3 separate regions of the Homo sapiens genome follow, and regions 2 and 3 are each linked to region 1. Evidence: fine-mapped expression QTL. A gene starts in region 1. Each other region holds a variant in brackets. All regions are shown on one strand. Distances are from middle to middle. Region 1 holds the start of PDZRN3 (PDZ domain containing ring finger 3). Region 2 overlaps PDZRN3 (PDZ domain containing ring finger 3). Region 3 overlaps LINC02005 (long intergenic non-protein coding RNA 2005).

Region 1 (10,150 bases):
AAGATGTTTGCTCTGGAGTGCTTTTGCTCTAAGAATCAGGGGGTAAGTCAGGATGGGAAACTGAGGCTGGGAGCAGAACTCTTTAACTCACTCAAGTGTAGCAATCCCAAGTCTGCTGCAGCTCAGATGTGGCCTCAGTGAGATCAGAGATGCCTGTCTAGGCTATGATTACCTGTCATTTAACTGCTAGGCAGTCTGGGTTTTTTTTGTTTTTTTTTTTTTGAGACGGAGTCTTGCTCTTTCACCCAGGCCGGAGTGCAGTGGCACTATCTCCGCTTACTGCAAGCTCCGCTTCCCAGGTTCACGCCATTCTCCTGCCTCAGCCTCCCGAGTAGCTGGGACTACAGGTGCCCGCCACCGCGCCCAGCTAATTTTTTGTATTTTTAGTAGAGACGGGGTTTCACCGTGTTAGCCAGGATGGTCTCGATCTCCTGATCTCGTGATCCGCCTGCCTCGGCCTCCCAAAGTGCTGGGATTACAGGCGTGAGCCACTGAGCCCGGCCTAGGCAGTCTGGGTTTTAAAATTTTATCCTGGTCTTAAGAAATTTAGGAAGGTGTTTAGACAATGACCAGTGAAACCATAACTGTGTGAAGACCAATACATGTTTGGTCTATATCTACCTGAGCGTAAGCTCTTCGTCTAGCTTAGCGGCTACTTAAAGGACCAGCATCATCTGGGAGCTCATTGGAAATGCAGAATATCAGGCCCCTGGCCAGCCCTAATGGATCAGAATCTCTAGGGGTGAGACTGAGGAATCTGTGTTAAGCTCTCCAGTGACTCCAATCACGCTAAGGCTTGAGAATCCTTAATATAGCTCACATGGTAGAACAGAAGAGACAACGTCTATGCTGGTACAGCACTAACAAACCCTAAGCGTTCAGCAGGTGTCAAAAAAACTGAAACCTAAGATAATTTAAAGAATGCCACATCATTTGTGCAAGTTCTAGGCTGCTGAAGAGCTGGTACTGAAAATCTGAGTGTTTCTAATCTCCTTCAGCTTATAACAGAGAAGCAAACATTAGGGCTTATTTTAAAAAGAAAATAAAAATGTTGCACATGAGAGTTTCCAGGACATATAAATCCTTCTGCCTTTTAGAAGAGAATAAACAGTACCCAGCAGGAGCAGAGAGCCGGCCCAATGAAATAAACAAGTTCTTAAACAGCTTCCAATGGGAGGAGTTTTATGGTTGACCCAGGAACAGCAAAAGCGTTCAGTAAGGGCCACTGAGGGTTAATTTCGGGGCAAGGAGAGACAGCAAGCTTCCCTAAGGCCTCAGCTGAGGCCAGGCTGGGTCTGAGGCCAGGGAAACTATCTAGGGCAGCTTCTGGGCCAGACCATCCTTTGCTGTTCTCAAGGCTGGCACTGAGGTTGGTAAAAGTTCCAAGCAGGGCTCCAACACCGGAACAAACCTTTCTCCGTAAGTTCAAAATCAACATCTTGTCTCTAAGCTTAACATCCTTCTTTATGCTACCCACTAACTCAACAGAGCCTCAAAAACATCCACAGTTTTGATTCAAGTATCATATTTTTGACTCTGAGGGAGATTTTACCCAAACACTCCAGAAAGAAAACAGAAAGTTAAGAAGAAATAATAAACTAGCTCAACAATAAATGATGCATAAACTCTGGGGCAGTGAATGGCTTATTTATAAATAAGCGTCACTTAAAACGACGAAGGAAGTCCAGATGACAGCATAAACAGCAGAAACTCGGGAACTCCTTCACCCTAAATCTGGCGCCTGATTGAAGACCAAGCTTTGCCCTCTGTTTTGGTGATTCGAAGGCTCACACCAGTCTTTTGTGTGCCTGTGAGGTCCTGGGCAAGCTGTGGAGCTGTAAATATTTGCCCTTCGCCCAGAGCTGGCCAGCTGCTGAGACTGCAGCTGACAGACAGGCCAGGGGCCAGGAAGGGGGGCCAGGTCGGAAAACTTGCAGGCCTGGTGTGCACGTAAGGAAAGGGGGCTGGGAGAGGGCAGAGAGAGGCAAAGCAGACACAGGCCCTTGGGGGAGCCTCGGGCAAATATTTTCCCCTTTCTGCCACACCATCTGGAGCAGGCAACCAGAGCGGTGGCAGCAGGCCCAGGCCCCTCCCCAGGAAGGCAGAAGTACCCAGCTGTTGAAAATGTGGCTTCTGCAATCAGGGAAACCAGTGGTTCTCAACCTGGGCGACTTTGCCCCTCCAGAGGACACTTGACAATATTTGGATTGTCACGACTTGGGAGGGAGGCCAAGAATGCTGCTAAACATCCTACAATGCACAGCACAGTACCTCCCCTCCCAACTAAGAGTTATGGGGCCCAAAATGCCAATATGCCCCAAAACTGAGAACTCTGAGGTAGAATCTGAGTCCGGCTCTGCTCCCTGAGTCACTACTTAATTTTGGACAAGTTATATAACTTCTCTGAGTCTGTTCCCTCATCTCAAAGGACAACATAGGTAATGCATGTAAAGTACTTCCTATTGTTGGTGGCACTTAATAAACACTCAATAAATGGTCCTTGTGGTTGCACTGAGGAGCAACATGATAGTTTATAGAACGTGGGCTGGAAAGATGGGCACGCAAAGGTTCAACATGCAGCTTTGCACCCAAAAGCTGTGACCCAGGCATGAAACTGCCCCTTAATGAGCCTCAGTTTTTTCATCTACTAAGTGGGAAGGGTCACACCAACCTCACTTGATTAAAAAGGAAATGACTGGGAAGAATGCAGCACCCAGCCTGGAGCAAAGTAAACCCTCGCTCAAGGGGACCGCTCAGGTGGAGATGTTAAAAATAATTCTAGGTAACACTTGTTGAGCATTTATTTACTCTCTGCCAGGCACAGTACGAGGCCCTTCTACTAAACTCTCTCCCTGAAGCCTGACAAAAACCTTTCGCACTGAGGGAAACTGAGGGATCTGGGAATTAAGCCAGAAGCTCACCCAGCTGGTCAGCAAAAAGCCCAGATTTGAAAACAGTTTTAACTCCAGAGGACTCACACTTAATTATTACTTTATACTTGTTGGGGGCAGAGTGCTCCTTTAATTCTTTCTGAAATCCCTGGATGAATACCTCAGGGGTGCCTGGCTGTGTTTTTACTCTGTATACCACGTCTCTAGGGACCATAGTTTCCAACTTTAGAGAGGTTAAGCAGCTTGCTCAAGGTCAGCCAGCTAGTTGGCTGCAAAGCCCACGCTTGCATCCAGCTTTTACCCCAGAGGCCTCTCTTCTGATATCCTTCTTAACTTAATCTACACTGGCTGTGGGTTCCCTTTATTTTTTTTTCTGGAATCCTAGAGGATGCACGGATACAATTCACCCAATGTGTCCATCTCTCCTCTCCTAAGTGTCAGTCTATAGGTTTCTGACCTCTAGAGGGTAAGCAACTTGCCCGAGATCCCCTAGCTGGTCTGAGCAGCAAAGCCTTTGAACGCAGTTTTGACTCTGGAGCTGCATTCTTCATTCTTATCCTACACTTGCTTGTGAATTCTTTTTCGTCCTTCCAGAATCCCTGAAGCTGTACAGCTATACTTTACCGGTTACGTCTAGACTATAAAGGACCACAGTGTTCCACCTCAGGCAGGTTCAGCGACCTGCAAGTAGTGATACAGCTGGTAAGCAGTGGAAGAAGAGGGAGGAAGCAAGGATGTTCCCGGGAAGCTCGGGGCATCCCTGTACCCAAAGGGATGGGGCGGGGCCCTGGGTCCCCAGGGATCCTGGCTGGAGGTCGGGGCGGGCAGCAGGCGCCTACCTTGCCGCCGGGCGGCGCGGCCACGCAGCGGCTGAGCGAGTCGAGGCGCGCGCTGTATTCGGTGAATTTCTTCTGGTAGCGCAGCGCGGTCATCTGCAGCTCAAGCTGCGCCGCGGCCAGCTGGGCCACCAGCGACTTCTCGCGCTTCCCAGCGCGCAGCGCCTCCTTCTTGAGCGCCTTGTGCAGCGCGCCCAGGCGGGCCTGGAGCGCGCCGTTGTGCGCCCGCAGCGCTCGCGCGCAGCAGTGGCCGCCCGCGCGCTGCTCGCCGTGCGTCAAGGGTAGCCCGCAGCCCTCCTGGCAGCGGCCCACTGGCCGCGCGTCGCAGGCGTCGCGCATGTGCGCCTCCACGTCGCGCCGCAGCAGCACCTGGCCGCAACCCGCGTGGCGACAGCGCGCGGGCGCGAAGTCGCAGCGCTCGAGGTGCTCCGGCAGCTGCTGCAGCTTGACCACCCGGCCGCAGCCGCGCGTCGCGTACGCGCACTTGATGTCCAGCTTGAGGATAAGGCGCTTGAGCGGCAGGACGTGGTTGAGCTCTTTGGCCGACAGGCGACCGCGGCAGCGCGCCGGGCAGCTGCCCTCCTGCACCACCCAGGGCAGCACGCAGCCGGCGCAGAAGACGTGGCCGCACGGCGTGGTCAGCGGGTCCTCCAGGACCTTGTGGCACAGCGCGCACTTCAGGTCCGGGTCCACGTCGCCGTCGAAGCGGTCCAGCTCGAAGCCCATGGTGGCGGCCAGGCCCCGGGGTCGCCGCCGGGCGGCCGGGCGCCCCCTCCCTCCCCACGAGGCGGCCCAGACAGGCCGGCTACGCCGCCCGCGCGCTCGCTGGCTCTCCCCGGACTGAGCCTAATTGATCCAGACTTCCTCGGAAAATGCCCGAGGAACAGGACTCCTCCGGCCGTATTTGCGCGAGCGCGAGCGCACATACATCGTGCCTTGGATGCCTCCCGCCAGCCCCCCGAAAAAGGGAGGAGGCTGGAAGGCAGAAGCGCGTGGGAGGACACTGAGGCTCGCCAGAAGGGACGGGCCAGCCCAGGACGCCAGCCTGAATCTTCTCGGGAAACTCCTTTCTGTTCTCTTACAGTCTACGCTATAGGAGACAAAACGCCAGCCGAGAAAAGCTCGCTGAGTTTGGAGCTGAGGCTACTGCTTTCTCCCAAGGGTTCTCTTCGAGCCCCTTCCCGAACGGATCAAAACTTTTTTACTCCCTTCTCCCTCCCCCTTCCTCTAGTGGCTGATTGCAGAGGACTAAAAATATCTTGGGGCCCGCTATCTCAGCACTTACGGTCTTTATTTATTTATTTCATTCCAGGGAAAGTTACAGAGCCTGCGGGAAGCTCCGGCTGCAACTTCAGTTCTGACCAGAGGTTCTGTGAACCTTCAGGATTTAGCAGGTTTCCAGGACCGGTGGGTGAATCTACCCGGGGAAGTTTTGGTGGACAAGAGCTGCTCGCCAGCTGTCGGAGTGGGAGAGGCCAGCGTGCTGGCTCCATCCACTTCACCTAACACCTCTGAAGTGTCTGCCCTGCAGTGTGGCAAGCGTGGTGCTGAGCGCTTCTAAATCCGTCGCTTTAAAGATCATTAGTACAATGTTGTGAGAGGGTTAGCTCCATTTGAAAATTATTTTCCCGTGATTACAAAAGAAGCGATGCTGACTGCAGAAGTTAGAACTGGGAGAAGACTCATCACCCCCATGATCATGTCAACAACTGCCCTCCTTCAGTTTTGGTTTGTTTTGTGTGTACACTCTGTCATCTTTCCATTGAGGAAACTCAGGCTAGAAGAAGGATAAAAACAAAACAGAAAACAAAACAAAACAAAAGTGCCCTGTAGGGTCCTGTAGGTCAGTGTTTCTCACATTTTAATGTGGTTGCGGTTCTGATACAGTGGGTCTGGGGCGGGTTCTGAGAATCTCCATACTGAAAGCACTTCCAAGTGATGCCAATGCTGCTAGTCCATGCTGGTCCTTGGATTCCCACTTGATTGGAAAACCCTGGCGATCCATAGATCTGGACATTCATTCCCTGCAGTACAGCAAACCTGGCTGGGTAGGATTCAGCAACAGTCCTGAGCAATGGAGGAATATTTTTGGAATTCCAAACTGGGTGTAAAGTTCATAGCATCATCCATTGATTTTATTTTATTTTATTTTTACCTCCCAAGGCTATAGACATTCCTAAGAAACACGCAGTCAGCTTTTGGTGAGAGTGGAATCAAGCTATGGAATTCTCATTTGGAATCTGCTTCCAGTTTCTGAACAGTGAAGCGGGAGAGTTCTGAACAGTAAAGCAGGAGCTCTGTATTCAGCGAGACTCTGGGGCCTGGAAAGTGGGATTACAGCATCCATTTTGTCTAATTGCTTTCCTTCTTTCTTTTATGTGGCTGCTAAAGCCCCATGACCTTCACTATTTAACTGCTTCATCAGAGTGAAAGAATTGCCTTGATGTTCATAAGGATTACTTGTTTCACACTGACCTTTAAAAAGTTGTCACTCACTAGATTTTTCAGTGCATGGTTGAGGTCACTGGACAGTGTTCTTTAATCAGTTTTGGTGGCATTTGTTGCCTATTTGAGGTGGAGACTTTCTTTTAATTGCTTTAATCAATTAATGCATTGCTTTGATAGGATTCTGCATGGGGTGGAATATTATTGGCCTTTGTTCAGATAAGCTTGTGCCAGGGAATCCTCCATCAGTATATTCATTAAACTGCTCATGGGCTCTCAGATAATGGGTAGGAAACAAATTCTTTCACCAAAGGTGTGTGGGCTTGTCAGTTTCACAGAATGAGCTAGTGTCAACAGGGTGATAATCTTCAAACCAAACTGGTTTTGAGAAACAGAGAAGTTCTGTCCTACACCATAAATGTAAATTAGTGCTTACTTGGGGTGTACACTTTTTTGGAGATGTTCTACCACCCCTCGGGTGGTCTCCCAGATGGCAGATTGAGAGGTTGTTGCTGAAATGCTACAGCTGAGGCCACAGAGAAGCCATAGCCTACTGTGGATTGGCCTCTTTAGGCAAAAGGAAAGTCTGTGCCACTCCTCAATGGTTAATTTTAGTATCAAAATTCTTGGAGGTTAGAAAAAAAATCCTACAATGTCAGAGCTGGCAAGACTATTATTTCAGTCACCAAACTTAACAGGAGAAACGAGAGCCAAAAATATTAGGAAAAAGGAGTTGAGGGCAGAGTTACTCAACCTTGGTACTACTGACATTTTCATTCAAATAATTATTTGTTGTGGTGTGTGTGGGGGTGGGGGGTTGGTTATCGTCTGCATTGCAGGATATTTAGGAGCATCTCTGGCCACTATCCAATAGACATAGTAACAACCCCTTGTTGTGACAACCAGGTTGAGAACCACAGTTTTAAGGAAGCTTTCTGCTCATTACTGAAGTCAGGCAATGCTGTCAGCCCACATTTTCTGCTGGCTGTGGAACCACCTGGTGAATGCTGCACAGTGAGAGAGGGATGTTATTATAAATCGAAAACTCAAGGCACCATACCAATAAACATGAATAAAAACTGTAGGAAGATGAATGTTTGGTGTGGCAGGCCTCCTGAGAAAAGTAGCTGATTTTTCTGACATGGATTAGATACTTACTCAACCGTCCCAGAAACATCTGAGTGTTTATATATGGATGAATTCCTTGTGGACAGCTGGATTGGTCACTTTGCAAATTATTTTTGCGACTTCCACTACCTCTTGCTCTTACCCCTTCCTTTTATCATCTGATTCTGCACTTTCTAACCAAAATGTGGCCCCAAGCCTAATAAAAATACTATTTCTATATTCACCACGATCCCATTCTGATTTTAAACTCTGTTTTTAGTGTTCTTTCCATCAGCATGTTTAATCAGAAGTTGATAATAATATCTACCACTTTTTTGGGAACTGTTACTAGGTATCAGGCACTGTGCTCAGCACTTGACCTTCATTGTCTCATTAATCCTCACTGCACATAGAGAGGTAGATATGTTGTCCACCCTGTTTTACAGATGGAGAGACTGAGGTTTATAGAGGTTACATAAGATATCTAAGTAGGCGTAGGTACCTTATAAGGTTACATAAGGTATGCCTCCAGTCAGGGATGTCAACAGGAGAATTTCAGAACCCTCACTCTTAATCACCATAAGCATTATGCGTCTCCTCCATAAGCTCCAGCTCAGGAGGCACTCCCTTACAAATGATATGGATAAGAACTCCACCCCTCCATGTTTGCTGGTTATCAATCCTCAGCTGCTCGTAGGGTCTGGATAATTTGTGGCTTCAGTACTAGAAAAAACAAACAAAAAGAAAGTCAAGGGTTTTTACATTTGTTTTTTAAATTTTCTTCCCCAGGCGTACATATTTGTATTCTACTAGCTAAAATAGCACTATACAATTAGATAAGGATCTGCTTTTACCAAATGAAAGTACCACCAGAGCGTAATAAGGTACAGCAGTCATCCACAAAAACAAGTGTGAAACATTTCGGTCAGACTGCTTGCCTGTTAACATAGCCAATGTTAGCCATCCTGGAGCCTGACACATTCGTTTGGCCATGGGTTGAAAGGTAGGGAGAAGAGAAGGTAGTTCTCTATTCTGGAGACTTTTGAAGACTTTGGTAAGTCAGGATGAGTTATCACAGTAGGGACACTAGGCAGAAGAACAAGAATTGCGAAAATACTTCTTACAAATTTGAGCAAATTCTGGTCTGCAAAAGTCTGGCTCTCCTTTCCCAACTCTCCAGATGGGATTAGTTTCCACAGCCCCAAGCACATACCCTTGTATAACAATGATCACACTTGAAATGTCTTAATTTATCTAATAATTATTTAGTAGCTATTATATGCAAAGAAGAGGCTGTTCTTGCACTGGGGCTACAAAGGCTACCAAAAATAATAAGCAGTGTCCCTCCCCTCTTAAGCCTTCATTTCACGATAAGGAACAGCAGATATCAATAAATGAATAATAAATGAGATGATTATGGAATATGATAAGTTCCCTAATACAGTGCTGCTCAAAGTGTGGTCTGGGGACCAGAAACATGGGCATAACCTGGAAGCATGTTGAAAGTGCAGAATCTCAGGCCGCACCTTGGACCTACTGAATCAGAATCTGCCTTTTAGCAAGATCACCAAGTGATTTGTGTGCACTTAAAGTTTGAGAATCACTGCTGTCAACACCATAAAAGCAGCTTACATGCTGGAGAAAAATCAAAGGGGCCCATTTGAAATAGGGCTGTCTGGGGAGGGGAAGTGTGAGTTGTCGCTTGAAGGGTGAGACTGAGCCAGCAATAGCTGGGAGAAGAACAATCCAGGCAGAACAAGAGAAAGTGCTGAGGTTCGAAGCAAGCACATGGTCTATTTGAATTAGACAGAGTGTGCCTAGAACTTGGAGCAGAGTAAGCCGAGCGAAGAAGAATCAAACAAGGGTAAAAAGTAGGCGAGAACCAAATGGACACGGGCCTGCAGGACCTGTGGAGGAAAGAGATTGAATTGATTCTAGTGCTGATTGGCACTGAAGTATTTTGGGCAGCAGAGGAGCACAGCTTGATCAATGTCTAGTGTCCATGCCACATATTACACTCTATTATAGAGTAGGGCAATCGTGTTCACGTTCTGTCCCCCATGTTTAACACTTAGTAGAAACGTAATAAATATTGAACAAATAACTGTTCCCTCTTCCTGCTCCATGTAAGTTCCTGCTGCTCAGCTCTTAAGCGTGGGTTGGTACTACCAGCATGAGGTATATGTATCACAGTATGAGTTAAATAGGCCTCTGTGTCCTAGTTGGAGTACCTATCAACATTTAGAACATTGTTCCCATAACAAAATCAATTCAGAATTATGAACAGCCAACTCCCACATGAATAAGTAGATCACTATCTGGTTGCGAATTGGTAGGCTTTGTATAGACTATGCATGTGTATATATACATATAAATGTTCACATACATACCTATGTATTTATAAACATACATGTACGTGCATACATACATGCATGTGGAACAAAAAAATTGTTTAGCTGAGCATAACAGAACATCCAAATAACCATGGAATAAACTAGTTAGAAATTAATCTCTCTCTCAAGTGAAAAAATATGAGCCATTGTTAGCAGGCTGAGGCTGGTATAGTGGCTTCCAGGTCACCAGGGACTCAGGATTCTTTTCTCTTTCTGCTCCACCATCTGTAGGGCCTGGCGTCTATGCTCATTTCATGGAGCGAGATAGCTGCTGCACAGCCAACCATTCCAGGCAGAAAAATGGAGGAAGAAGGGGCAGGCCAACCTGATTAACCTAGGGGAAGTAGCTTAACTTAATCAGGTTGGCCTGCCCCTTCCTTCAGGAGCTTTTCTGGAAGCTCCACCCAACTACCTTCTCTTGCATCTCAGCAGCAACAGAATTTATGAAATGTACTCTTTTACAAAGGCACATTGCTTC
Region 2 (10,150 bases), 110 kb before region 1:
TCGCTTTTAACATATACAAAGGGAGAAAACAAAACACTGAAGGCAGAGGCGGCAAAATGTTACCAGTGGCTACTTTTTTATGGCAGAAATATGGTGACTTCATTTCTCTTTCATGCTTTTCTCTATTTTTCACCCCTCTCTTACCCCCAGTAAAAAACAATTAAGCAAGCCTGTAACCCATCGTGGTCTCTGACACTCTCACCATCAGGGAAAGTGAAGTCTACTGAAGAAGGCTCCCGCCAACCCAAAAACAGAAAGGCCCAAGCAGGAAGCGGGACGACTCTCTTAGCCCTTTGTTGTCCATGCTAGAAAAAAGATCATCCTTTATAAAACGCCTCTACTCCAGCCCTGGGTGTCGGCTGGGCCCCCCGTCTGCATCCTCTAGAGCTGGGTTTCCAGGGGGTGAACGTGGTGGGATTTCACATGTGGTTTTGCTTGTGCATTTGGACATTCTTTGTGGGGCAAGCTTTTCCCTTCTTATTTTCTGACTGCTCCTAGAGAAGATGATTTGCTGCACGCCTCCCCCTACAATCCCAACCCGGAGCCAATGAGGGGAACAGATCTGGGGATGGAGGCAGATAATGGCAGCATTTCTCACTGCCCTAAAGTACCGTCCACCACGCCAGCAGACAAAGCGGGGCATGTTGTAAAAAGCAGTTCTGCTGGCAAACGGCTAACAAATCCATGTATTTGCAACCAAGGACTGGCGGCCGCATCTAAAACAGACACCTCATTGTGCTTGGTTTAAAAGGAGCCCTTGGAAGTAGGGCCTTTCAGGCTGACAGTTAAATCACAACGGCCCATATTTACATGAACGGCTTCCAACCGTCTGGGCGAATACACAATATTTCCATTTCACAGAAACCAGGGATGGTGACAACACAGAAGCCAGAGAGACCAGAAAGTAAACTTCTGATTGGTACGAATGTGTTTAAGCAGCAGAGCCTATACACTTATACACTTGCAGAAGTTAACGCGCTCCTTTGGTAAGCAAGTTTGTTATTGTTGTTAATTCCATGACAAATGTAACAGCTCAGCATACACACACCTAGGTGTCTCAAGAAGGCTTTCTACTCATTTAATCAAGTGTGTTCCTGTGAGTGCTTTCAGTTGCTCTGGCATTAGCAGGGAAGCTGCGTGATTCTTCAGTTCTGATTAAAAGCTAGGAGAGCACAACTTTGTAAGCCCATCACAGCAGCGAACCGTTCCAAATTCAGACAGGAAACACCTGGAACTCTGTGCACCACTAGGAACGCACTTTACATTTCAAAACAGATGATTCTAAATTGTTCATAAATATTTGTCTTGTTTCAATAAAACACTCTTCAACCAGTTTCATAAACCCTTGGTTCAGAAGGCTAAAACGTACACGCTACTAGGCATCCACATTCTTTTAACATTGCATATATTTATGTGGACAATATCCTGGAAACATAAAACCCAATGGCAGGCATTTAATAGCGTCATATGGGAATTTTAGTTGTTTTTTTTCTTTTTTTTTTCCGGGGAGAAGGACAACTCTCTCCTTCCATAAATAAAGCCCAAATTGCACTTGTTGTCTAAAAAAAGTGAACTGAAATATAAATTAAACTCAAGTTTCTTTAACTTGCCTGTTATAGTAAATAAGACCCAGACAAACCCTTCTGGAGGCTTAGAAAAGCTTTAATATAATTGATTATTAAACCTCCAGCTATAGGATAGAGTCATACTGAAGGCCTTGTAGCCAAACATTCCCTCATTCTTGAACATGATGAGCCCTTTAAAATGTTTTTAAAAGCTGTTTTTAAAAAGACACTAAAATGAAAAGTAGCTTAGTTTATAGGTTGAAAATTAATCTTTAAAAGCCATTTCTGTACATTTTTAGTATTGTCCAGATTTTCTACCATACACATGGACTTGTATTGCTTTCATTTATTTTAATGTATACTTTGATCATTAGAAAAAATGAAAATGATTTACACACACACACAAAGAAGAAAGAATCGGGTACCAAGGGCCAGTTCCCAGGTGCTGAGATAGGGTGTTGCGGAGGCTGCAGCCACAGCCTCAAACCCAAGCCAGCCTGCCAGGGCACTCTGAATCTAGCCCACGGACCTCCAAAGTCGAAAACAGGGCAACCCAGGCTTCCCAAGAGTTAAATGGGAAAGTGGGTCACTTCGAAGTACTGTCCAAAGATTGCTACGAGTGAGCTGCTGTTCATAGTCATCGTCTTCTTTTTAAACAGTTATAATTAAAAATTCATCAACTGACCATAAACTTCTTACTCTGGTCTAACTAAGAAACATCAGCACACTGCTCCCGGTAAATGAAGATTAGGCATGGCGGTGATAAGAGACTGCATAGAGGCTCTTCGGAACCATAAAAGATGGTCGTTAGAGGTAATGATAAACTAATTCTGGATACATCAGGCAGCAGATGCTCAGCCCTAGGTTAATGATTAACGTGCTGGACCCTGGCCAGTTAAGAAGTTGTTTAACCAATGCCCCTGAGAAGCAAACTTGTTAACATTCACTTGTTCCTAACTACAGCCACTGTTTTCTCTCTCTACACTAACTACACTGCAAGTAAGTTTTCATCTTTCCCTGCCTCAAACCAAGAATTTAACATGGAGGTCCAGAACTAAGACCTAAGCATAAAGCTCATTCAATTTTCTCAGACTTTTGAACCTTTACTGAACCAACCAAAGAAATATTACTCTCCCACTAGACTAAAATATTCTGACCCACAGTTGAATGGTAATTGGTAATAGCTTAGTTTGTTGTTCTTGGATGAATTTTTATTGCACCCGAAAAGAGACACCCACAAAATTTAAGTGCATTGATGAAATTATACTTCAGAGATGACAAAATAGAAGAATCTTATTTGTTTCTATATACAAGGTTTCTATGTCCTTCTAGTTGGTACATTCACAGATAGGATATTTAAGGGTCAGGCTGCCACTGTCAAACAAAATAAAACCATTTAGAGACATTTAATCTAATTTTAGGAACAATGCATTTTAGGAAGGTGATTAGTAATGCAAATGTAAAATTACCCTTGGTTGGGATAAGCAAGACAAACAAAGGATACTTAGAAGTACTTGTGTTGTCTTCAGGATTAGGGAATGCTGCTTTGATCATGTTGAAAGGAAGATAGAAAAAAGATTGAAAAGCTGGGTCTCTAAGGTAGGAGGTCTGGGATCTGTTTATTCTACTTAGTTCAAGTTGGAATTGATGCTGTTAAACATGTGAGATGACCCTAAACTACTCTTCAGGGTTAAGGCAGGTCTGAGGCAGATGGATGAATTACGCAAATGGACTATAATGTGTAATCTGTGCATGTGTGTAACAATAAAATACAGTTCTATCAAGATTTTGGTTGAGAAAAGTTAATGATAAAAGGGCTGGGCTGGAAGACTGGGTCGAGGAAGGAGAGTGATACTTAGGGTTTACTCACATCTTATCTAGGCAACTTTTCTGGTCTTGATTTGGGCTTTAAGGGCCATGAATACACAAATATACTTAAATTCCTACATTTCCAGTATATATGATGTAAGAAATTTCAACCAATTGGTCTGAATCTTCTATATTTTGCACTTCTCATCAGGCACCTAGCCAACGGTTGAGGGCTGATCTTCTGACTTGGCTTTCCTGGTTGACCAGTGCTGGTTCTATAACCCAATTAACTATCAGAATTCCAAGCAATGAACTAAGCTTGCTGGTTTCATCCTGGCAGAAATGAACACAATCTTGAGCTAAAATTGTACAGTTGTAGTCCAACAATAATGGCAGATACAAAGGCTATGTTCCCGGTACAAAGACAAGCATTTCACCTGCATAATCTCATTTAGCACTTAACAATTCTGTACCGGAGATATTATCTATAAACCCATTTTACAGACGAGTAAACAAACTCAGCTAGATTACAAAGTGAGAAAGCGATGGAAGCCACATCTAAATCTAGCATACCTGATTGTAAAACAAAATCCCCCTATACTGTTTTCTAACATGAATAACCACTCCACCCCAGTACTTTACCCCTACAGATTCATTGGTGGTATAGAAACAAAGGACTCCAAGGACACAAAAGCCTAGGTGTCCTTTTCTGACTAGGTAATTGGGTGAGAGCCTCCTTTTCCACCAACAATCAGCCCTTTTTTTTTTTTTTTTTTTTTTGAGATGGAGTCTTGCTCTCACCCAGGCTGGAATGCAGTGGCGCGATCTCGGCTCACTGCAAGCTCCGCCTCCCAGGTTTACACCATTCTCCTGCCTCAGCCTCCGAAGTAGCTGGGACTACAGGCACCCGCTACCATGCCCAGCTAATTTTTTTGTATTTTTAATAGAGATGGGGTTTCACCATGTTAGCCAGGATGGTCTCGATCTCCTGACCTCGTGATCTGCCTGCCTCGGCCTCCCAAAGTGCTGGGATTACAGGCGTGAGCCACCACGCCCGGCCCAATCAGCCCTTCTTAAACACCTAGAAATAAATGTGCTTCTCTCCCAACTCCAAAAAGTTCCTATAAGGAAATGACCTCATCCACCCGTTACAGAATCTCTATTTCAAATTTAACTCCACCCAATATTTTTTAAAGATCGATTTCCACAGAAAAGCAGAGCCCAGGATATATCTAGATCATACTCTGGAAATCAGCTCTCAGCTCCATTTTTTCCTTTCCAAAAGCATAGCTCTGGACAATTATATTGCAGAGAGGAAATCAAGACTTAAAGCTAAATTTAGTTATCTATAACTGTTAGAACCATTTTCACATGGATTTCAATCAAATTTTAATTTAAGTAAATAATGCATGGGTGAAAAGTCCTTTTAAAAAGTACAAAATAAAAGCAGGACAAACCAGGCCTATGCACATACCTAAAACAACAGTCCCCAAAGTTTAACTACTGCTCATTTTTAATGTATCCTTTCAGATAAAAGCATATACCAGTATAGAGATCTCATTTTAAGAAATAACTTCTATAAATGCTTGCCACAAAGTTTGTAGATCTGTCTAACTGAGCGTTTGGAGCTCTACTTCATTCTTTTTAATAGGGCTTCCTGCCGTATAGATGTATTGTTATTTAACATTTATCTTGTTTCTAATTTGGGAGGAAGGGATATATTGTTGTGGTGGGTTTCCATTGCATAATGTTACAAGTAGCATTCTTGTGTGCATGTATGTGTGCCTGTATACATACATATCTTGGCACACTCTTTTGTGATTACATCCACAGTATAGATTATGGAATTTATAAGCCAGACAGAATGAACATTTTAATTTTAATAGATATTGCCAAAAGCTGCACCAATGTAAACTCTCACCAACAGTTTATGAGTGCTTATGTCAACACACCCATCAATGTTGCCTATTATCCAACTGTTACATCTCTGCCAACATCATTTGGTTGTGTATTTTCTTAATTATGAATGAAGTTGAGTACCTTTTCACATGTCTATTGATTATATTCTTATCTTGCTTTTCTATTGGGTAGTGTGTCTTTTTCCTTGACATGTAGAAACACGTTAAGAAAGGAGAAAATTAGCCCTTCATCTCCTCTTGCTAGTTTGTTATGTTTTTTGCCATACATAAGTTTTAAATTTTTATATAGTCAAATGACCAATCTTTTTCTTTATGGTTTCTGGGTAGGCTGGATAAAAAATAGATTTAGATTCAGACCTATAAATAGGCATCCATGAAAAATGTAAAAACAACCCTGGCCAAAATTATCCTCAAGTTCTGACATTTAAAACAAACACTCCAGAAAACGTTTACACTTGTT[ACAGGACACGGAGTC/A]CTGGACACCTGCCCAAACCTTCTACAGATCCATTTATGGTCTTGGTCTGGTGCTGGCTGTGCTCATGTGCCTATGGAATGGGCTATGAGGAGCCTTTCGGGTCAAAGCAAACACTACACACAATGGAAAATGAGGACAAGTTGCTGTGCTCGGTTATCACAGCCATGCTGAAGTTTTGGTGGCCCCTCCTCAATCCCAGTAACCCAAATTCCATCACGAAAGGGAGAATACAAAGTGCTTATTTCACTTCCCATCTGGGGCATGTTGAAACAGTCCAAACATCTGAAAGGAGGTGTGTGTGTGCGTTTACCCTATCACAGGTGGCCACATGTGGAAGGATAGAAAGGTGATACAGTGGAAAGATCCACATTTAAATTCTGGATCCTCCATTTCCTAGCCCTGTGACTTTGGCTAACTTAGTTAACCTGTATAATTTATATGTGTGACTAACTTTTGGCAAGTTATAATACAATTCAGAACAAATCACAGTTTCTTTTAAATTTATAATCCTAGTTTGCCAAGGATTTTCCAAACAGGTCTTCTTTCTATGTGAAAAAAGCTATGCTGGTCATGTTTCTATGTGAAAGAGCTCTCAACAAAACATTGCATAATTATCGAGAGCTCTTTGGCACCTAAAATTTACTTATAGAAGAACAGATACTAGGTAAACAAAAGCCCTCAAAGTTAACGTCACAGCGAGGCTTAGGCCCCAAAGGATGCTAAGAGATTCTTTAAAAGGCTGAATGAAATGTACACAAGAGAATATTCTCAAAATGGCAGGGAGGAAACTACAGGATATTTGTAGAATCTATAGCAATGGCAATCAAAATATTCAGTATGCCATATAATTGAATCCATATCTGTAATTTACACATCTGCTTTGAAAATGGCTTCACATTTCACAAGCAAGACGATGTAGAGTTTCTGTAATGTATAATACTTTGGTAATATGTTTTGTGCACCAAAATATTTTCCAGCATCAAAATTATAAATGGTTAAGACAAAAACAGCTGACCTCACATGCACGACTAAAATAAGTTTCTTTGATGTGGGATACCATACAGATAGGGCAATTATAACTGTTATGTCTTTCAGGTCAAAGCAAAGAATACACATAACTGGAGATGAAAAGAGTATGGCCATCCTCAAAAAATTAAAAATAGAATTACCATATGATTCAGCAACTCCACTTGTGGGTATATACCCAAAAGAATGGAAAGCAGGGTCTTGAAGAGATATTTGGATGCCCACATTCATAGTGGTGTTATTCACAATAGCCAAAAGGTAGAAGCAACCCAAGTGTTCATTTAGTGGATGAATGGATAAACAAAATGTGATATACAATGCCATATTATTTAGCCTTAAAAAGAAAGGAAATTCTGATACATGCTATGACATGGAAGAATGTTGAGGACCTTACACTAAGTGAAATTAGCCAGTCATAAAAAGACAAATCCTGTATGATACCACCTATGTGGTATCTAGAGTAGTCAAATTCAAGAGGCAGGAAGGAGAATGGTGGTTGCCATGGGCTGGGGGAAGGAAAAATAGGTAATTATCGTTTAACAGATACAGTTTTGGTTTGAGATGATAAAAAAGTTCAGGAGATGGATAATGGTAAAGGTTGTACAATAACATGAATGCACTTAATGCCACTGAATTGTACACTTAAAAATGGTTAAGGTGGTACATTTTATGTTATTTATATTTTACCACAATAATTTTTTTAAAACTTAAAAAAAAAGACTGAGGTATACCTACTTTCTCAGTTTGCTTGGGCTGCTATAACATAATACCATAGTCTGGGTGGCTTATAAACAACAGACATTTATTTTCATAGTTCCAGAGGCTGAGAACTCCAAGATCAAGGCACTGGAAGATTTAGTGTCTAGTGAGGGCCTGCTTCCCAGTTCATAGATGTTGCCTTCCGTCTTCACATGGTGGAAAGGACTATGCAATTCTCTGGGGCCTCCTTTATAATCACTAATCCCATTCATGAAGGCAGAGGTGTCATGGCCTAATCACCTCCCCCAATCCCCACGTCCTAACACCATCACCGTGAAGATGGGGTTTCAACCCATGAATGTTGTGGGAGCACAAATATCCAGCCCATAGCACCTATGTAGTGAGGTTCCCTGAGGAGACAAGTGACGTACTTAAGATGAATCAGGTCTAATTGCAAAGTGGGTGCAGAGGGCAGAATGTGCTTGGAAGAGGTGCAGTGAGTTCAGGAAACTTCCCTCCACAGCCACAGCCCTCATGAGACCACCTCGAAGGGAGAGACCCCAACCTCACTTATCTACTTCACTCTGATCTCCTCCCACTGGCCACACCCACCTGGAAGCCAGGGAGCACTGGCTGATGGAGTCCCTTGGGCAGAAAGTAGGGTGGGAAAGAGTGGCTGTGAAGAGCAAGGAGACTGAGCAAAATCTATACACGCCAGCGTAAAGAGGAGGCCAGAGCATACAGCTGAATGAAAAACAGCAAGCTGTGGAACAGGAGGTTCAGTATGATGTGATTCATGGTAAGAGGAGGGGGAAATGCCAGCACGAAGGCTATTTTCTACCAGCAAACTCAGAATAGAGTCTAAAAGCGATATATACCAAACTGACAAGAGTGTTAACTTCTGGGGCAAAGATGAGAGAAAGAAGGAACTTTAGACTAATCTGTACTGTTTCAAGTTCTTCCACAAGGAATGTGTTTATGGGCTTCATGGAGAGTTCAATATTAATTTAAAAAGAGTAAGTGGGATCATTAATTGTTTCTATAAAATGGAGATACCCCCAGCTTTTGCAAAATTGGGTTAGGCAGCCCATGTCCAGGCATGTCCTGGAAGCCCTAAGTGAGTAAAGAGTCGTAACAGAAAAAACATCAAGTTACGTCAAGCTATGGCTATGCCAGTGGTTCTCAAAGTGTGTTCCCCAGAACAGTAGCATCACATCACCCGGGAATGTGATAGGAGGGCAGATTTTTATACCTGACCCCAGAACTACTGACTCAGAAACCTTGGGATTATCTACCAGGGAGAGGGTCATATGTGATGTGGTGGGACAGGAGTCTAAGGCCAAGCACTGCTAGACCTTACTGGCCAGAGCTGCCATAGACAGCAGTACAGGCTGTACAATGCTCCTGCAGCTGTAGGAGGTGTTATTCACATAGACTATGATGAGAATGGCGTTCCTTGGGGGTGGCGCACTGCAAAACCTGCATCCCATCCATACCTGTCAGCCCTTAAAGCAGGGGGGAACACAGAAGAGTTTTAAGCAGGCAGATGACATCATCAGGTTTGCATATGGAAAGACACCCCTGGCACTCTGCTTAGAGAAGAAAGAGGTAACAGAGAGCTATATCAAACTGCTTTGTCTCCTATATATCTTTGGGGCTGCTAATTAGCTATATCAAGAGTAAACTAGGCCAGGTGTGGTGGCTCACACCTGTAATACCAGCACTTTTGGGAGGCTGAGGTGGGAGGGCTGTTTGATCCCAGAAGTTCAAGAGGAGCCTGGGCAACATGGTGAGGCCTTGTCTCTATTAAAAATGAAAAAATAGCTGGGTGTGGTGGCGTGTGCCTGTGGTCCCAGCAACTTTGGAGGCTGAGGCAGGAGGAACGCTTGAGCCCGGGAAGCTAAGGCTGCAGTGAGCCGAGATCCCACCACTGCATGTTCCCGCCCAGCCAACAGAGCAAGACCCTGTGACAACGACAACAACAACAACAAGAGTGAACTAAAGTAAAAGACTCTTTGAATAGAATCCAAGTTGTCTTTACAGCCCAACCCTGAATCAAGGCCTCCAGATACTTGGGTCTCAATTAGCAGAGGGGCGGGAAAAGGAAAAAGGAGGACAATGAAAGACTCCCAGGTCCTACATTACATGCGTGTCTGTACACACACAAGCACACACACACAGAAAAAAATGAAAGCAGGGGTAGGGGGAGCAGGGGCAAGCAGGTGTTGATAAGGAAGAGGTGAGCCCCTTGGGGAGGTAGTTTGAGGAAGAAACCTGAAGCTAGGGGGCAGGTCTCACTGGCAATACTGATTCAAAAGCCATCAGCACCCAGATGGTAATACAACTACAAGCAAGGATAACATCACTCAAGGTGCGTGTAAACACTGGAAAATCAGTGGGCTGAGGCCAGAGCCCCGGAGAACCTCTACATTTAAGAACAGGAGCTAGTGAAGGAATGTGTTGCACATGGCTTGGAAGCTAGGCAGCTGGAAAAGGCCAGCAGGAATACAACCAAAGACTCTTGGCATGGCAGAGCCCAGGATTTAATTCAAGTGAGACGTGTCAGCAAGAGAAAAAGGAGGAGACAGGCACGGGGAAGTGCTGCCAATGTATGTTTTCCCTCAGGAGCACTGGGTTGCCGGTGGACTCGTTAAACG
Region 3 (10,150 bases), 190 kb after region 1:
GGCCAGGGGGAGAGAGGTGAGAGGTGAGGTCAGCACATCTGGTTTCTGCCCTCAGACTTCTTTACAGATGAGGGAAAGGTGCGTGCTTTAAAAGGACAGTTAAGCGGGCCCCAACAGAGCCCAAGAGATCTCGGCTGTCCCCTACCTGGGGGATGTCAGGCTTCTTCAGCATCAAGCTGGAAGAGGCTCCCAGGACTGGTGTGGAAGGACAGAGCAGTTTTCCCATGTGATGGGGAACTTGTTTCAGAGGTGTCAAGAGATCCACACTAAACCTGGTGCTGTAAACTCTAGCTGGTTCTCAACTGAAGTTTTTGGGGGATGGGGAAGAAGGGTGATTTCTAGGATAGAGGAAATATGCTGTTGGTTGAATATAGGATTGTACTTCTCTGGATATGTCTTGGAAAATTTCCTTAGGTTTTGGAAGCCTCAGAACCCTCCAGAGTTTCAATTTCAGAGGCTAAGACTTAGAGGGTCCCAACAAGAAATATAAACAGTACGGTCTGCTGGTGATAAAAACAATGGCGGTAGTGAGGAGAGGAGGATATTGAGGGAAATGTTTCTTCTTGGCTCATGATAGTTCCTTTCTGTGAAAGGGTGCAATTGACAGAAACAGTGGGGGCTTCACCTGTGGCATCACTGTCTCTACCCTAGCAAGGAGGAGGGACTTATCTGGTTGGAAAATTTCAGAAGAAAAACTAGCTCCTCCTTTTTGTCCTCTCAGATATGAACTCATCAGCAGAAATGTGAGTTCTTCCCAGCTTCTCCGTGCTGTAAGTCTTATGTGGCACCACTGCCTGGGTTGGTTGTGTTAACCTACCTGCCAGAGGGTGGCGGGTGGGAGTATCTGAAGCCATTGAATCCTGCAAATACAAACCACAGCTTCCATCCTAGTCTTTATCTGTCATACAGGTTAGAGTTGCACTTTCCAATCTGCAACTCTTATGTCTTGTTTCTCTGTGAAGAATGCGGGTGTGGATGGGCATATTTATTGTGTCCCTGTGATAATTTTATGTGTCAACTTGGTGAGGGTATGGCACCTAGTTGTTTCATCAAATGCCAGTCTACATGTTGCTATGAAAATATTTTAGATGTGATTAACATTTAAATCAGTTGACTTTAAGTAGAGCATATTTGTGTCCACAATGTGGGTGGGCCTCATTCAATCAGTTGAAAGCTTTCAGAGCAAAGACTGAGATTTCCCAAGAAAGCAGCAATTCTGACTCAAGACTGCAACATACAAACCCTGCCCGAGTTGCCAGCCTACAGACTCAAGACTGCAACACCAACACAACTGAATTTCCAGCCTGCTAGCTTGCCCTACGGATGTAGACTGGTTAGCCCCCACAGTTGCATAAACTAATTCCTTGAACTAAGTCTCTCTCTCATATATGTCTCCTAATGGTTCTGTTTCTCAGAAGAACTCTGGCTTATACAGTCCCTCATGATCCCAGCACATAATGACTAATAACCGTGGCTGATATCATTGAGTCCTCATTTACTCCTCACAATTACTTACAAGGTAGGCAATAGCATTCCTTCCATTTTAAAGATGGGGGAACTTAGATGTGAAACAGTTAAGTAACTTGCTCAATGCTGTGAAACAAGTGGAGATGCAGCATTTGAATTCAAATTTTCCTGAAACCATAACTGATGTGTTTAACTATTATACCACACAGCCTCCAAACCAGAAAAGGAAGTCCTACTCAAAGTTATGATATAGTGCATAGTTAAGTGCATAGAAAGTCTTTGTCTGTTAGTCTTATGCTGAGTGTCTATATTTTGAGTGCCTCTCTGTTTCAGTGCTGGATGAAATAATTACATGTTAAAGCTGATAGTAATAACCCAATGGTTACTTCTCTGGCCAGCCTCATTGGTGCTTCAGCGCTTAGCTTGGGATGTGATCTATGGTTCTGAGTGTCCTTTTTGTATTTGTTACTCTAATATTTAGCATAATCAACAACTCCCAATGATGGCTATAGGGAGCACACATACAGCAAGGATAGTGGCATGAAGAAATAAAAGAATCATCACTGATAAAATTCACCTTTGAGGATTTATTCATACATTAATCTATCTCTTCATGCATTTATCTGATAGTCAACCAGAAAGGTTTATTGAGAAGTTATTCTGTGCATGTATTTTTATTTCATTCATTCATTTAATCAGAAATGAAATTCTTATTACATACTCTGCCTTGCTAGGTGGATTCTCCCAAATTCACCCTCATTTTCACACCCTGCCTTCAACTTCTCTCCCGCCTACCTCTTGGAAATGTACCTAACTTGTTTCTATTCCTTCAGAGCCCTGCTCTATATTTTCCATGACGATATTTAATTTGATAAACTAATACAGAGAAATGGATTAATGGAACTGAATGGCATAACGGTTAACACATACTCACTGTAAGTGAGATTTCCTAAAAGCACATCATCTTGATGCAGAAGCAATAACTTTTATGATGGATGCTTTAGGCAATATATTATGGGTAGTTTTGGTCTGATGAGGCTTCCCGGTGACATGTTGAGGGTAGCACTACCATTTTGTGAGAAGCCAGCAATGTGTCCTCTTGCATGACATTTTACTTGTTCATAGGATGGTTTTGCCATAAAATAAAAAGAACCAAATAAGCATTTGCATTAAGCAACTATTTATGTAAGATAAGGACAATGATCGAAAGAGGCCAACAGACTTCAAAGTGTCTCCTCTCTGGTTTCATAAAAATATTACTTTACTCGTGTGACAGAGACTGAAGCTGCCTAATCAATAGCCATATTCCTGAACCAACATTTTGGTTAGGATGTAATTCCCACCAATATTTTGGCTAGGATGTCTAGCTAAAATACTACATTTTCCACTCTCCATGTATATAGCTAGTAGGGTGTTTCTTTTAGGAAGGTTCTACAAATAATGCTGACTCAGCTAAGAGGTGTTTGCCTTTTGTTTTTCCCTCTTGTTCCTGCCCGGAAAGCAGACATAAAGGCTGTAGCTTCAGCAGCCATTTTGGAACATGAAGCAACGTTAAGAATTGAAGACACATAATAGTATTGTAGAGTGTAAAGATAGGGAGAGTTTGGGTCCTTGGTGAGTAGGGAATTATTCCCTCCATATTGGACTATCTATGTCCAGAATTCTTTGATGTAAAGAAGATATACATTTCTGCCTCATTTCAACTACTTCAATTTTTATTTCCATGTATGTGTTCTATGCACCTGAATCTAATGGCAATTAACACATCCCCCAAGTTTATCATTAAAATCTATGAACTATATTATTCCAGTGATAATGTTTCATTAATGGAGCCAGTCTGGTATCTTGAGTTTATTCACAGCTAACTGTTCTGCCTGGTTCGTGTGAATGGAAAAGAAGTTTCTGTACATTTTGAGTCACGGCTCCACGTCTCTTCTTTTGAACATGTATCCTTCATTTTCTTTGTTGTCTTATTATTGCTACTCATGGACTGTTCAACGTACTTTTTTAAAATTATTATTATACTTTAAGTTTTAGGGTACATGTGCACAATGTGCAGGTTAGTTACATATGTATACATGTGCCATGCTGGTGTGCTGCACCCACTAACTCGTCATTTAGCATTAGGTATATCTCCTAATGCTATCCCTCCCCCCTCCCCCCACCCCACAATGTACTTTTAAAGAAGTTACCGTCCAGATAATGTAACTTTCACTTTAAGTGAAAAGCTGCTCACTCATTCTCTTCCTTCCTCTTCCTCCCCCTGTCTCCCCAGCTCCCAAATTTGAGTAAAATTATGCCCAGTGTAATTTATTGTGATTTTCCCCCTTCTTCTAAACAATATCTGTGTTAGAGAATTGAACACCTGTAAAACATTTGTTATTCTCACTTGTCCTAATCAGGAATTCAATAAAAAGGCATTCTGAAATCTTGGAAATACTGAGGTTTTTCTGAACTTAAACTGATCTGTTAAACCAGTTAGTTGAGCAAGGCCGGAAGAGCCCTCAGGAAAAATCATGAAAACGAAATTAAATCGAACACAAAAAGCAATTTGCCAGCGGTGAATTTAATTCACAATTTGCCTCCTCTGGAGAAGAGTATTCAGCCTTGGCCACATGCCAATGAGAGCTCCATGCGATAATCTATAGGATTGCACA[G/A]TTCCTCTTAGGACAGTAATGAAAGGAAAAATAACATTTGTTCTGCCAAAGTATGTGGACTTGCTGACATTTGCTGAAATACAGATATCATCTGAGTGAACAGGATGTTTTCCTGAAGGTGCTTTGGAGAGCCAGTAGTTTACACATCTTTTCCACACATACATAAGGCAGCTTGAATTTCTGGTAATTGTGAGGGCTTGACCCTTGCAACTATTTCCAATATACCCCTGGTGGCTTTTGGACTTTGTCAAGATCATCTGATGATATACACAACCTGGTGAGAAACTTGCCTTTGTGATTTTCAGTAATGTTTGTCTATTTCTCCCGACTCCTCGTTGGAATGATGATTTAAGGGAGATAGAATCTGGAATTACTGGTGGGGAGGGGAGTTAGCAGACTTTAAATCAAGTGTACCTGTCATTTAAATTGCTTGATTCTAGATTGAACAAAGGAAACATGCTGGGAAAGTCTGGGGGAAAATATGCTACATTTTATATTCTCTGATGGAGCAAATGGGGGGAGATTTTAAAAGGATGGAGATTAACACCTATTCACATTGGATACTTTCATGGCAGAAGGCTCCAGGGATGGATTTGTAGAAGGCGAAATACATGAAACTTGACAGCTAATGGCAAGTCTGAATAGTCTTGCCTAGATGATATGCTGTATTTCAGGTATTTCTGGGCATTTCATTGTTGGGAGAGTCAGATCTAAAGTAGGCTTTGAGGGATGAAAAGGAGATGGTTTCCAGCTAAGAATACAGTAGACGTTGAATATAATTAAGGTGAAACAGAGATGAGTGGTACTAAACATATGATAAAAGCATCTCAGGATGAAATATGATGAATCACTCAGAAGCAGAGAATATGAGCAGAGATGGACAAATTATTCAGTAACACAGTCAATAAGGACTTGGCCAACAGGCATCAAAATATTAGAGGGTCAAAAAATAATCTTAAGGAATTAGAATATGTGTTTTGGTAATATCTATTCCATATATTTTAGGGATAGATACATGGGTGTGTATGTATTCCATTACGCATGTGGGAAATTATGACTGACAATACAACTGCAGGAGTTTTCATGTAAAGATAGATTAGATTTGATAGCTTCAAATTCATTTTTAATAATTGTTTTATTCATTAATAAATAGAAGGACCCAATTTAGACTCCTTATTTTTAGTATTACAGGGAAAACAGTAGCCCTCTCTAATATGGCAACAAGTGTTTAAAGATCGTGTATAGCTGGGGGTGGGGTCAGTTGTAGGGAAAGAAATGATAAGTAATTGAAAATATTGTGCTAGAAAGGGCCTTTGATATTACAATGATGTAAAGTCTGAAGAGTTAAACTGGAATGTAGCAGTCACACAGCCAAGTCTGAGTGGGTAGTTTGGTTAGTGCAGTTGCCATTGAATCCAATCTAATAGTCATCAAATGAAGTCCAATTCAGATTGATGAATACAAGTATGATGCTTACTGTGTACCACGTACTGTGCTAGTTGTTGTGAAGTCAAAACTGAATGTTAGAGCACCTGTTTCTAAGAAACTTAGAGTCCACTGAAGGCACAGGGAAGACATGGAAGATGTTATAAATAGTAAACTGTGGAAAGTGACAGGGCAGAATGTATGTAAGGAGACATATACATTTGTAGAACATGTACGAGGTACAGAAATAACATCATAAGAGAACAGTAACATTGTCTTGTGAGTATGACTTTTCTTAGGTTGAGGGAGTGAAGAAAATGGGAAATTTTAGGAAAGAATTTCCACCTGAGCTTTTTAAACATGAAAAGGAGCAAGTCAGAGACATTCAAGGATGGTGATATGGTTTGGCTGTGTCCCTACCCAAATCTCATGTTGAATTGTAGCTCCAATAATTCCCACATGTCATGGGAGGGACCCAGTGGCAGGTAATTGAATAATGGAGGCGGGTCTTTCCTGTGCTGTTCTTATGATTGTGAATAAGTCTCATGGGATCTGATGGTTTTATAAAGAGGAGTTCCCCCTGCACAAGCTCTCTTGCTTGCTGCCATGTAAGATGTGCCTATGTTCCTCCTTTGCCCTCCACCATGATCGTGAGGGTTCCCCAGCCATGCGGAACTGTGAGTCCATTAAATCTCTTTTCTTTATAAATTACCCAGTCTCAGGTATGTCTTTATTAGCAATGTGAGAATGGACTAACACAGATGGACAGCAGGAAAATAACTGGAGAATACTGATTTAAACATTTGCTTTCTTCAAGGAATGAAAATAGAGCCAGATCATCCATTCATTTCTCTTCCAGATCCAGTATTAAGAATCTAGAATTTCATGGCTCTGATGCCAATTTTGGTTTTGCATATTCATCTTGTTCATTTCGCCATTTTTGATAGAATTGAACTGAAAAATGCATCCGATGCTAAAAGTTTGAAAGAACTTTTGAGATAATCTTTGACTTCCTTATATCATTTATTCATTTACTTTGAAAAATATTATTGAGAATCTACTCTGTTCCGGGCTGTTGGGCACTATTTTAGACACTTAGAATACATCAAGAAAGAAACTGATGTCCTTGCTCTCTTGGAGCTTATGCTTTAAGAGGGAGAGACAGACAATAACTGAAACACATCAGAAATATGTGAATATTACAGTTTGTCAAAAGGCAATAAATGCCAAGGGAAAAAAATTGAGCATGCTATATGTGGGTGGATATATGTCCCAGCTTGCCCAAGGCAGGCTTAGTTTATTTCTGTGGTGCCAGCATAACTATTAGCAGCATCCCCTTTAGCTCTAAAACACATCCTGGTTTACTTTAGATGCTATATAAATTCATAACTGCAGTTAATGGGAATCAGGTGTGTATGTGTGCACATTCCGGGCCCCATACAATAATTGAACATGCTGATCCAGCTAAGTCTCACTGAGGAGGGACTTGAGCAAAGACTTGAAGAAAGTGAGAGAGTGAGCCACACAGGTATCTCAGTGAAGATTGCTCCAGTCGGAGAAGCAGAGGAACAATTAGGGCAAGGTTCTAAAGTTTTAAGGAATGCGGGGCTGGGGGTGTGTAGTTGGGGGTTCATGCAGCTAGAGTGAATTAATGAGGGGCAAGCTGTAGGAGATGAGGTCAGGGAAGGTAGGGGTAGGGAGCAGAGAGTGTAGAACCTTAGGTCATCAGAAGGGAGTTGAGTTTTTCTCCGAGTCTGATGGGAAGGCATTGGGGGTTTCTATATGGCAAGTACATAATCTGACTTTGTTTTAAAAGTATCACTTTGTGGAGTCTATTCTTTGTGAAGTATACACTTTAAGGTGTAAAAGTCAAGGCAGATTTTATAAGTAGGAGGCCCCACAGTACACTAAGCAAGAGATGCTCATGGCTTGGAACAGGGTGGTGGCACTGGAAGAGGTGAGAAGCAGTCAGATTCTGGACATGTTACCAGCCAACAGAATTTCCTGCTGGACAGGATATGAGGGGATGAGCTCCTCATATCTTGCAGCAGTAACAAAAGATTCATTCCAGGACTAGTTCAACAAACAATTTGGTGTTTTGTTTTAACTGAGCACTTCAAAAAGCAGCACTTCTCTCACCTTGCTTCAAAGCCATGCCTCCTGTATTAGTCTGTTTTCATGCCGCTGATAAAGACATACCCAAGACTCGGCAATTTACAAAAGAAAGAAGTTCATTGGATTTACATTTCCACTTGGCGAAGGTGAAAGGCACATCTCACGTGGCGACAGACAAGAGAGCTTATGCAGGGCAACTCCCATTTTTAAAACCATCAGGTCTTGTGAGACTCATTCACTATCATGAGATCAGCACAGGAAAGACCTGCCCCCATAATTTAACTACTTCCCACCAGGTTCCTCCCATGACACGTGGGAATTCAAGATGAGATTTGAGTGGGGACACAGCAAAACCATATCACCTCACTTTTCAAAGCATTGGCAAAATGATGAACCCCATTAAAATTTAGTTGCATACATAGCTGCTTCTGTAAAAATATTTCCAATGTGGATAGTTTTGGTGAATTGCAATGTGGTGTATGTAAGAAAGAGAGCATTTTGCTAAACATGGGACTTTCCAAACAGTAGCAAATAGGTAATGAATGTGTTTAATGATACGTTTACATTTCGACATGTTGGAAAGTGTTGATGGTGGGGCATCCACATAGTAAGTAGAGGCCAGGGTCTGCAGCTCTGCCTGTGTGGCTAACTGTGTGACTCTCATCACATCCCTCGACCCTCTGAGATGAATACCATTTGTTTTAAATGGAGCATTTTATTGTGATTACAGTTCTATGTTTTTGTGTTTACTGTGCTTTCAGCTCTGACATTCTGTGACTCTGAGCACCTTAGGGGAACAAAGCTACAGATAGACATTTAGGATCTTGAGCTCTCATAGCACTTTGTGAGATTGTTATGGTTATCTCAATCCTCTTATTTGCATATTCTTGCAAATTGCAGTCTAGGACTGATATCTTTTCTAACAACGCGTTATTCCCATGGGCCATAATTTAGAGAGGCCCTTATCATGCTGATTAAGAAGACAGGCATATTTTTAAATTGGATAAAATAGTGCCTTCATCTTAGGAATATTGTGTCATTGTATAAAAAATAAGAGTGATAATTAGTAACAATTATTATAACCAATGTTTGAAAATTTACTATGAGTAAGGTATCTTACGTGGAATCTTTTATTTAATTCTAAGCACAAAACAAACAAGACCCTATGGGTAGGTACTCTTCATATTCATTTTAGAGATAAGAAAGCAGAGCCAGAGAACTGAATACCTTTCCCAAAGTAAGAAAATTTGCGAGTGGCAGTGTTAGGATTTGAACCCAGGCAGTTGGCCTCCAGACCATGCACCATCCCAACCACCCTACTTTAATCCTGTCAGTGCACAGAGAGGGTTAGCCCAGCATCTGACAATAGTGAGAACTCAACAAATGGAAACTATTGTGATGCCATGTATTATTGCAGTGAAAATTCAATACCTGCTGGGTAACCAGTGAATCTGTGAATCATCTACACTGAGGCACTGAGGTGATAATTGAAATCAGGAAGAAATGAGCTCATGCAGGGGAGAGGGCAGAGAAGGGTTGAGGACTGAAATTTGGAGGATGAATAACCATATACCCTAATGCACGCTTGGATGATGTTCAACCTTGAAGTGACTATTCTTATAACCTGCAGCAGAAACAAATGTTTCCTTCCAGGTCTGGTTGAGTGACTCTTGGATTTTGGTTCTAACTCTTTAAAACTGTTTCTCCGACTCTGCTTCAAAGCTATGTCTTCCCTTTCAAAACATTTGCAAAATAATAAATCCTATGTCCAAAGAGTCTATTGAAGTTTAGTTGCAAACATAACGACTTCTGTCTGGTAAAGATTAACAATGTTTCTGATATGGATAGTTCTGATTAATTGCTGTTGAAACTCCTGAGCTGAATGTCAAAGCTGGAAAATGAACTCTTAAATGCACTCAAAAGACAAGAGCCCCGTGTATCCTTGAACATAATCCAATCAAAGAGATTGCAAAGGAAAACACAAGAGACAGTATTAAATTCATGGTGACATGAAAGTTTCTTGTTCCATTTTTGAAAAATCACCAGGTCATTGTTCACAAAGAGACTTTTCTTTGATATTGACCTGCCTGATAAGTAAAAAAAACATCTTTTTAAAACATTATTCTTGACTTCTCTCGTTAAACATGTATTAGTCCTACAAAACTCTGGTTTGCAAATCCTGATGTTCAAAGTCATTTTAAAAGAACTAAGGGGAAAGGAAAACTCAGTCAAGCAAATAGAAGTGCTTAATTGTCTATAATGTGGATTTTTAGATAAGGGGAGTATTAGTTGGTAATGTCCATCAGTGAATTGGCATCCTATCAAGGCCTGGCGTTTGACCTTTTTAGAGCTGTCTCCAAGGAATGACAGGGCACAGGGCATTTCTGCCATATGAGTTTTACTGGATGGTAATATTATATCTAAAAAGCTGGATGGCCTTGGACAAGTCACTTAATATTTCAGTTTTGTTTCATTCTTGAATAAAA

Evidence for each region. PIP is the estimated chance that this variant, and not a neighbour inherited with it, causes the effect.
Region 2: its variant is fine-mapped to the expression of PDZRN3 in tibial artery (GTEx, PIP above 0.99). The same link has a PIP of 0.9 or more in aorta and gastroesophageal junction.
Region 3: its variant is fine-mapped to the expression of PDZRN3 in lung (TOPMed, PIP above 0.99). The same link has a PIP of 0.9 or more in visceral fat.

The regions. Positions count from the first base shown.
Region 1 is chr3:73,620,373-73,630,522 of GRCh38, forward strand. PDZRN3 (PDZ domain containing ring finger 3) reads right to left here and starts at 4,569. Exons shown (of 10, transcript NM_015009.3): 1 at 3,731-4,569. The coding sequence starts at 4,453. PDZRN3-AS1 (PDZRN3 antisense RNA 1) reads left to right here and starts at 3,196. Exons shown (of 2, transcript NR_046681.1): 1 at 3,196-3,593; 2 at 5,040-7,527. RefSeq lists an enhancer at 1,988-2,502.
Region 2 is chr3:73,511,042-73,521,191 of GRCh38, forward strand. All of the region lies in intron 3 of PDZRN3 (PDZ domain containing ring finger 3), which reads right to left. Among named protein-coding and RNA genes, the nearest start is that of PDZRN3-AS1, 110 kb to the right of the region's middle. The variant ACAGGACACGGAGTC/A (reference allele first, on the strand shown) is at 5,754.
Region 3 is chr3:73,809,341-73,819,490 of GRCh38, forward strand. LINC02005 (long intergenic non-protein coding RNA 2005) reads left to right here. Exons shown (of 4, transcript NR_146637.1): 1 at 1-16; 2 at 722-770. Among named protein-coding and RNA genes, the nearest start is that of LINC02005, 5.2 kb to the left of the region's middle. The variant G/A (reference allele first, on the strand shown) is at 4,125.